2 linked regions of the Homo sapiens genome follow. The protein of the gene in region 1 purifies or fractionates together with the protein of each later gene. This does not show direct contact. Each region holds a gene or a part of one and is shown on either strand. Other genes may lie near its edges.

Evidence for each region.
Region 2: the proteins of FGD4 (region 1) and POTEE purify together in Homo sapiens (affinity purification with mass spectrometry, with the first as the bait; one large-scale study listed by BioGRID). This does not show direct contact.

The regions. Positions count from the first base shown.
Region 1 is NC_000012.12:32,576,777-32,582,095, reverse strand, and holds part of FGD4 (FYVE, RhoGEF and PH domain-containing protein 4), read right to left. Parts: intron 2,500-5,319; exon of another isoform or gene 2,351-2,499; intron 2,345-2,350; exon of another isoform or gene 1,814-2,344; intron 137-1,813; coding exon 1-136. UniProt on the Homo sapiens protein: Activates CDC42, a member of the Ras-like family of Rho- and Rac proteins, by exchanging bound GDP for free GTP. Plays a role in regulating the actin cytoskeleton and cell shape. Activates MAPK8.
Region 2 is NC_000002.12:131,215,859-131,220,535, forward strand, and holds part of POTEE (POTE ankyrin domain family member E), read left to right. Parts: intron 1-1,730; 5' UTR 1,731-1,825; exon of another isoform or gene 1,826-2,451; 5' UTR 2,452-2,544; coding exon 2,545-3,065; intron 3,066-4,677.

The DNA.
Region 1 (5,319 bases):
TCCCTGCCTCTGTGGCAAGTGCTGGGAGAGGAGTTTTTGTTGAGGTGTGGTTGTCAATCCATGCCTTCCTGGGGTTCTAGGAGCATTTAGGTTCACAGCAGACTCTTTCTTCAAATCACTATAATTTGATAATGAGCTAAAAGATAAAATACAAAGGAAGCATGAAAACATTGGTATGGAAAAGTTCTAGAATTAAGACAAGTTTATTCCAGTTGAAAAGGGATATTCGCTACTTTTTTTTTCTATCTCTGATGGTTTCAGAAACATGGATTTGAATATTCTTAGTGTAGACCCAAGTCTCTTGGGATGCTATCCACATTTAAATAAAGATTTAAATAAAGAAGATGACCCCGAGTCTACCTATGGGGACTGGAACATTTCCTTGGGCTGTTTATTTTATTTATAACTTATTTATTTATTTTTCAACGCTTAACTTTTCTTGATCCTTGCACTGTTTAATAATGTGACTAGTTAGTAAAGACTTAGTTAGATATAATACTTACGTATTTATCATCTCTTCCTAACATTTTTACTTATTGATGTTTCTTAACATTTTTAAATAGTACAGTGTAGCCAGTCCTTAATTTATGAACAAATTATGAACCAAAGAGTTTTTTATTTGGAAGGCATAATGAATACTCTCAAAACTTTTTTATTCATGCTGCCATACCTTTTTAACTGGTCTCTTTGTTTCCACTCTGATCCCCTCCACTAGAACCTCTACAAGTCAGTCACAAACTCTGAGGGCTTCCTCACACACTCAAGGGAAAACTCAAGTCCCAGTGACAGCCTATGAGATTCTACATACTCTAGTTCCCAAAGTGCATGGCCTCATTAGATTTCATTCTTCCTTAACTCACTGTGTTCTTGCCATACTCCTTGCTGCTCCCATTCTTAATAACCAAGTGTATGTGTCTTGGGGTCTTTGCAGCTGCTGTTCTCTGCTTAGGACAATCTCTCCTAAAACACTGGTATTTCTTCTTATCATTCGGGGTTCTGTTCAGGTATCACATCTCCAAAGAGGCTTTCCTAGATTCATCTATCATAACAGCACTCTCCATCACTAACTCCACATCTGATTTTATTTTTCTTTAAAGTCCTTATTACTGCTTGACATAACAGTAGTCTTAATAGGAGAATGAAACTTACTCCCAACATATAACAATATTCCTGTGGAAATATTTGTACAGATTTTTTTTTTTTTTTTTTGAGACGGAGTCTCACTCTGTCACCCAGGCTGGAGTGCAGTGGCGCAATCTTGGCTCACTGCAAGCTACGCCTCCCGGGTTCACACCATTCTCCTGCCTCAGCCTCCCGAGTAGCTGGGACTACAGGCGCCCGCCACCACGCCCGGCTAATTTTTTGTATTTTTAGTAGAGACGGGGTTTCACCGTGTTAGCCAGGATGGTCTCGATCTCCTGACCTCGTGATCTGCCCGCCTCGGCCTCCCAAAGTGCTGGGATTATAGGCATGAGCCACCGCGCCCGGCCATTTGTACAGATTTTAATCTAGGATTCTGGGAGTGGGGTGGGGAATGGAGCACAAAACTGTGGGCTATACTCTTTGAAAGATTCCTGTGACCTAAACGAGAAGAAATAAAGCAACTAAAACTCGGTGAGGTTGCAGACTTCCTCTCTGCTTTACTCCTACCTCTTAGCGTGGCGCTTGACACAGGGGAAGTACTCAATAAATATTTGATGAACTTTGAATAACCATGATAATGATGATGATTGTGACAATAATAACAGCCAGAAACATTTATTAAGTGCTTACTAAGAACCACAAACTATAAGAAGCCCCTTACAATAATTACCTTGTTTCATCCTCACAATAATTCCAAAGACAGGGATCCCATAGAGAAATCTAGGCTTAGAAATTAAGGTGGCCAATGTCACAATGTAACAAGCAGAAAAGCCAGAGGTCAAACCATGAATCCAACTCTAAATCCCATGGTCTTCACCCCAAGTTATGATGTACTGGAGCAGAAGGACAGAATGAGCATCAGATGAATAGGCTGTAGGCAAAATGAAGGAAGAAAGTCTAGGGTTGATTATCTTCCCCTGTGCAGGTAACGGGATAAAGGGAGGTGGGGAAGGAAACAGCAAGCAGCCTGGTCCCAAGGACAATGCTGAGATGTGTCACCTTTGCTCCCAACCCACCCTTCCCAATCACTGCTGATCTGGACTGGAGAATGAAACAGGGAATAAAAGTAAACAGCAAGAAAGTGATGAGGGAGGAAAAAAGATACAGGTAAAGTCCAACACCAGAGGAAAGAAAGGATAAATTGAGTAGGGGAAAATGTCATATATATAAAAATTGGAGGTGGGCAATACAAATAAATGTTACACACTCTTCAGTTGAGATTTGCCCCCTTGAGGAGGACAACTTTGGCCTGGATAATTTCCCAAGTAGTCTTTAGAGATTTGAATCAAACTGTCCTCCTTCTCCTGCCCACATCAGTCTCTGGATTCCCTGGTGGAAAGATCCTCAACAGATCCTCTGAAACAAATTTAAGCATGTTCAGGTCTTATCTAAAGGATGGCTTTGAATGAGAGCTGCAAATGTCCCATAGTAAGTGATATCAAGGGTATGAGTAGGGAGGGAGAGGAGACGGGGAAGGATAACGTGGGTAAGGAGTTAGTAAAAGCAGTAGTTGAACCAGTACTTGGAAGATTCCTGCTGCTTTGTGGATGCCAAACCATAAGGAGAAAACAGTTGACCTTGGAGTGTCCATGGGAAAAACCAATGTTCCGGCCGGGCACGGTAGCTCACGCCGGTAATCCCAGCACTTTGGGAGGCCAAGGCGGGCAGATCACCTGAGGTCAGGAGTTCGAGCCCAGCCTCAACATGGAGAAACCCCGTCTCTACTAAAAATACAAAATTAGCCAGGCGTGGTGGTGCATGCCTTGTAATCCCAGCTATTCAGGAGGCTGAGGCAGGAAAATTGCTTGAACCTGGGAGGCGGAGGTCATGGTGAGCTGAGATCGTGCCATTGCCCTCCAGCCTGGGCAACAAGAGCAAAACTCTGTCTCAAAAAAAAAAAAAAAAAAAAAAAACCACTAATGTTCAGGTCTGTAGAAACATATTCTTATTTCTAAAATCTTAAAGTGGTTCCTAGGTTAAAAAGAGTACTCTCTCTTAACCTGAAAGAGAGAAAGAAGGAGGAATAGGAGAAAGAAGGAAACCACAGTAAAAATTAAAGAAAATCTACTTGCTCCAAATCTGTCATCTTAACAAACTAGTGCTACGATGTTTTTTTTTTTTTAAGGCAGGGTCCCACTCCGTCGCCCAGGCTGGAGTGCAGTGGCACAATCTCGGCTCACTGCAGCCTTGACCTCCTGGGGCTCAAGCAATCCTTTCACATCAGCCTCCCAAGTAGCTGGGACCACAGGCGTGCACCACCATACCTGGCTAATTTTTGTATTTTTTGTAGAGATACGGTTCTGCCACATTACCCAGGCTGATCTCGAACTCCTGAGCTCAGACAATCCAACCAATGTGGCCTCCCAAAGTGCTGGGATTATAGGCATGAGCCACCGTACCCAGCCGGGTAAGGTCTTAACAACAGTATGATATGACCATTCTGACCAGACTCCACTCTAACAGATGTTGGTTCTTCCTATCAATTTCCTGTGACAACTCAGAGCCTCCCTCTATTTTACAAAGCTAGTCTAAGCTCTCATAAGGAAGGTTAAAAATGAAAACGACCCTTGCAATGGCAAGGATATCACTCAACAGTAAATACAAATCTCCTACTTAAGTCCTATAGATCCAATGCAGTATTAACCCACACAAACACTTTAGTGGCCAGTCTGTAGTGGTAATACCTCACTGAGAACATAACATTGTTTTTTGTATCGGCAGTGGACTCTACCACAAATAATATTTCTTCACCAGACCTGCCAAAACACACTATACCCAATTTGCACTCGGAACAAACTTGCTTAAAAAAAAATCATAAATTATAGCACATTTTTCCTTAGATGAATTAAACCTTCAACCTTTGCATCAAAACAGGATTGAATTTATGAAGCTTGAATGATTAAAAAAACATTAAGTGGAAAAAGTACAAACAGTTCTCATGTAGAGGAATCTAAAACAATGCAGTGGGTTAACCAAAATGGAGAGGATGAGAGGACGCAGCCTTTGGAATACTGACCCTTTCCAGGCTTCAGAGAGTTATCCCTGAAATCTAGGGATGCAGGCTCTGACATGCCTTATGACAGGGATCAGGGCTCCAGCCCCTCCTATTATGCAGTCACTAGGCATGGCCCCTGGAATTTGCAAACATGAGGGGTCACTCTGTTGTTATCAAGTCAATTTACCCTGAGCAGCAAAAAAAAAGTTTTAAATGGAATTAAACCATTCTAAGTAAATATCACTGTAATTCAAGATAGCAAAGGTCCTATAAATCCTACTTCAGAGGAAGAGAGGCTGAAGTTGAAATATTTATGACCAAAGTTCCTACAATGTATCAGGAATGAAAATTGAAGACAGGCTTCTCTCCAGAACTTGTAACTTTGTAAAATAGACGGGGCCTCTGAGTTGTCACAGGAAATTGATAGGAGGAACCAACATCTGTTAGACCCATTTAAAAAATGAGGGACACTGCAGGTTTTGTGCTTGTTCACAATTCCCAGAAGATAATCAAACTATTTCCAAGCTATGATTTCATTACATAAGTAACAGTAAATCCGACAAATAAATAATAAAATCACCCTAATGGTTAACAAGTCCCAAATATTACACTGAAATGAATGAAAATATTTGGTTTCAAGGATGAAATTGAAGTTATACACATTCTGTTTAGTTGTACATAGACTTTTGGTGACAGGTAACAAAATTCTACTGATAAAATTGCTTAAAATTATATTTAAGTCAGTGACAAAATTTCTTTTTATCAAAAGACTAAGAAAAAATAAACAATTGAGAGTTTTATAAGGAGAAAAGCAACTTATGTGGGTTCTGTTTATCTTTAAATGAGAAATATAATATTTCACCTACCTTTGTTTTTTCCAAACATTGGGACTAAAGAATATAAATTATATTTAATAAATACAAAACTGAAATTTAGCATACATTTTGTCATTGGTAATAATATCTCTTTGCAAAACCTAGCATATGATGGAGTATATGGAGAGGGGAAACCGGGACTGAATGGGTATAGAAGACCCACATTAAATAAAATGGGATGGAAAGAAGAGAGGGCCCCAGGGAGGAGACAAGCCCACAGGGGTCACATTCACAAACATACAAAGTGAGAAACGAAGAGACAGAGGCATCCGCTCAGACTTTCCAACCCAGATATTGAGCGTCCCA
Region 2 (4,677 bases), on another chromosome or scaffold:
TTATATGTAACTGACTTGCCAGAGTAATTATACAAGGCAAAGAAAGGAAAGGCATCTAAATAGGAAGGGAAGGGGTGAGATTGTCTGTGTTTTAGACTCCACAAAAAACCCATTACAGCTGATAAACACTATATTCAATAAAGTTGAGAGTTACAAAATTAACATTGGTTTCCATACACCAATGACAAACTGTTATCTGAAAAATAAGGTAATTCCATTTATAATAGCAACAAAACAAATATATAAGTAAATCAAAGAGCAAGGAGTAATTTTAATGAAGGATGTGAACGATTTGTATACTGAAAATTATAGCACATTGATGAAAGAAATTGAAAGTGACAAATAGAAAAAGTCCTATATTTGTCAACTGAAAAAATTAATATTGTCAAAATTTCAATGCTACTCAAAGCATTCTACAGATTAAATGCAACCGCTGTCAAATTCCAATGTCATTCTTCACAGAAATAGAAAAATTAGTCCTAAAATCTGAATGGAACCACAAAAGATGCTGAAAAACCAAAGCAATCTTTAGCAAAAAGAACAAACCTGGAGGCATCAGACTACCTAATCTTTGACAAAGCAAACAAGAAAATGGGAAAGGACACCCTATTCAACATATGCTGCTGGTATAATTGGCAAGCCACATGCAGAAAAATGAAGCCGTTCTTCAAAGGTTAAATACAGAATTACCACATGACTCAGTAAATTCACTCCTATGTATACACCAAAAATAAATTAAAACAAATGCCTTACACATAAAGGTATTTATAGCAACAAAAAGTAGGAAACAACAGAAATGTCCATGAATTTTGGAGTGGATTAATAAAATGTGGTCTGTCCATAAAATAAAATATTACTTGGCAATGAAAAAGAAAAACATATTAATACATGCTCCAAAAAGGATGAACATTGAAAACATGATAAATGAAAGTAGTAAGTCACACGTAACTATATTATTATGATTCCACTTACATGAAATGTCCAGAATAGGCAAATCCTTCCAGAATAGGCAAATTCTTAGGAAGTAGATGGATGATTGCCTAGGGCTGGGAGAGGTTTAAAGGAAGAATGGGGAAAATAGGGAAAGATTGCTAATGGGTGCAAAGTTTCTTTTAAGGAGCATAAAAATGTTCTAAAATCGTGGTGATTGTTTAACTAGTTAATACACTTAAAAAACTGAATTTTATACTTTAAATGAGTGAATTAAATAATATATAAATTGTATCTCAATGAACCTGTGAAAAAAGTTAAAAAATATGTGGTATGCATAAACAAAAAGTTCTTCATTTTATTTCCTAGGGTTTTGGGGAAAAGGTGGTGTTTGATTATATGAGTAAGTTCTTTAGAGGTGATTCAGGAGATTTTGGTGCACCCAACACCTGTGCAGTATACACTGTATACACTGCACCGGGGCAGGAGCTGGCTGCAATCCTGTGGCCCCAAATGCCCCCTTGCTGATGGCCTCGTGTTCTGGGTGCGGAGCAAAGAGGAGCAGGTGTTGAAGGCACCTCAGGCAGGCCCTGGGCTCGGTGGGCGTCTTGTGCTCCGCGATTTTGAGGCCATTTGCAGCCAGCTCCGTCAGCCCGAGCTCCCAGCTGCAGCTGCTGCCATGCACAACAGCACCGCCAGGAGTGTCCTGGGGGCTTTTTTCAAAGGAGGCTGTCAGCATCCTCAAGTTCCAGACGCTTAGCCCCAGTCCTCCTTTAAGAGGCTTTTTTTTTTTTCACCAGAGGCTTCTCAGTGGCTTGAAAGCTCAGCTGACTCCCACGAAGTTTGCCGGAACTCAAGGCTGTCAGTGACATTCGTGGCGCCAAGACTTAAGCAGGCGCGTTGCATGCATCGGCCAGTGTCTGTGCCACGTGCCCTGACGCCACCTGAGATAAGCACGCCGCACGCCGCACGCCGCACGCGCACGCCGCACGCGCACGCGCACGCCCGGCAGCAGCTTGCTGGCTTGTAACGGCTTGCACGCGCACGCCGCACGCGCATAACGGTTTGGCCGGCCTGTAACGGCTTGCACGCGCACGCCGCACGCGCGTAACGGCTTGGCTGGCCTGTAATGGCTTGCACGCGCATGCTGCACGCGCTTTAACGGCTTGGCTGGCCTGTAGCGGCTTGGCTTGGCTTTGCGTTCTTGGCTTGGCTTGGCGTTGGTAGCTTGGATTGACGTTTCCTGCTTGGATTGACGTTTTCTCTCTCGTGTTCCTTTGCTGGGCTTGACCTTTTCTCTGCTGGGTTTGGCATTCCCTTGGGTGGGCTGGGTGTTTTCTTGGGGGCGGGGGTTGGCCCTTTCTGGGGTTGGCCCTTTCTGGGGTGGGCGTGGGGTCGCCCAGGGGGGGCGTGGGCTTTCCTCGGGTGGGTGTGGGTTTTCCCTGGGTGGGGTGGGCTGGGCTGGAATCCCCTGCTGGGGTTGGCAGGTTTTGGCTGGGATTGACATTTCTCTTCAAACAGATTGGAAACCCGGAGTTACCTGCTAGTTGGTGAAACTGGTTGGTAGACGCGATCTGTTGGCTACTACTGGCTTCTCCTGGCTGTTAAAAGCAGATGGTGGTTGAGGTTGATTCCATGCCGGCTGCCTCTTCTGTGAAGAAGCCATTTGGTCTCAGGAGCAAGATGGGCAAGTGGTGCTGCCGTTGCTTCCCCTGCTACAGGGAGAGCGGCAAGAGCAACGTGGGCACTTCTGGAGACCACGACGACTCTGCTATGAAGACACTCAGGAGCAAGATGGGCAAGTGGTGCCACCACTGCTTCCCCTGCTGCAGGGGGAGTGGCAAGAGCAACGTGGGCGCTTCTGGAGACCACGACGACTCTGCTATGAAGACACTCAGGAACAAGATGGGGAAGTGGTGCTGCCACTGCTTCCCCTGCTGCAGGGGGAGCGGCAAGAGCAAGGTGGGCGCTTGGGGAGACTACGATGACAGCGCCTTCATGGAGCCCAGGTACCACGTCCGTGGAGAAGATCTGGACAAGCTCCACAGAGCTGCCTGGTGGGGTAAAGTCCCCAGAAAGGATCTCATCGTCATGCTCAGGGACACTGACGTGAACAAGAAGGACAAGCAAAAGAGGTAACCAGGCCTGGGCTGGGAGGAGGTGGGACGTGGGGGGATGATGGGGACATACCCTCCTGGCGGGGGAGGAGGGGGACCTGGCTTTCTCGCCTCCGCAGGCCTCACACCACCCTGGATGTGGAAACCTCAGAGAGGTCAGGGTACAGGGCCCTTTATGAACAGCAACACAAAAACAAAACTTTAGCTGATTTCCAATCATAATTTCCCTCATAGAACACTAATAGACTGTTTTAAAGTGATTTAACTTGCAAAATTAATTAAGTCAATGCAGCAGATTATTTTTAATCTACAGATTTTAAAACAATGTTCTATACATTATAGAAAAGTGTATATTGAGAACTAAGAACAAAGCCCCATAACACATCAACTTCAGGGCTAAATATTCTTCAAATAAAATCCAGTATGGATTTTATATCAATGTACAGTATGTAAATATGTTCTTTACTGAGGAACCTTAGAAGGAAACTGAAATGGGAAGATGGTTCCTGTGCTTGAACAGGAAGATTGAATTTTCTTAAGATGTGAGCTTTTTGGCTGGGCGCGGTGGCTCACGCCTGTAATCCCAGCACTTTGGGAGGCGGGCGGATCACGAGGTCAGGAGATCGAGACCATCCTGGCTAACACGGTGAAACCCCGTCTCTACTAAAAAATATAAAAAAAATTAGCTGGGTGCGGTCGTAGACGCCTGTAGTCCCAGCTACTCAGGAGGCTGAGGCAGGAGAATGGCGTGAACCCGGGAGGTGGAGCTTGCAGTGAGCAGAGATAGTGCCACCGCACTCCAGCCTGGGCGACAGAGCGAGACTCCCTTTCAAAAAAAAAAAAAAAAGATGGGAGCTTTTTCTATTTATCACTTTTACCTAAGCCAAATAAAAATAGCAAAGTTTTAGCGTTTTTAAATTACACATGCTGTCTTTTATTATTGTGATAAATTAATTTTTTGTAACAGAATGGAAAAAGTCTGCTTTTCCAGATATCAAAATGTGCATGTTATTTATTTCCACAAATTGTTTACTAACAGCTGAAAAGACATCAATGAATACAACAGAATAGGAAATTTAGAAATACCCAAATATATGTTAAGAATTTAGCGCTTGATAATGGTGGTGTTTTTTATTATTTGAAAAAGATGGATTGTTCATAATTCATGTTTGGAGAAAACTAGCTAGATTTTTATGTCACAAAAATAAGAGTATAGATTAAAAATTTTAAATATACAAAAAGAGAAACATACCAGAAGAGAAACATACAAATGCCTATTTATATATGCAGATATATATTTATATATATACTTTTTTTTGGATGGAGTCTGACTCTGCTGCCCCGGCTGGAGTGCAGTAGTGCGATCTCGGCTCACTGCAACCTCTGCCTCCTAGGTTCAAGCAATTCTCTGCTTCAGCCTACTGAGTAGCTGGGATTACAGGCGCCTGCCACCACGCCTGGCTAATTGCTTTGTATTTTTAGTAGAGATGGGGTTTCACCATCTTGGCCAGGCAGGTCTTGAACTCCTGTCCTCGTGATCCACCCACCTTGGCTTCCCCAAGTGCTGGGGTTACAGGCGTGAGCCACTGTGCCTGGCCTATATTTGCAGACATAATAAAATAAGCTCATT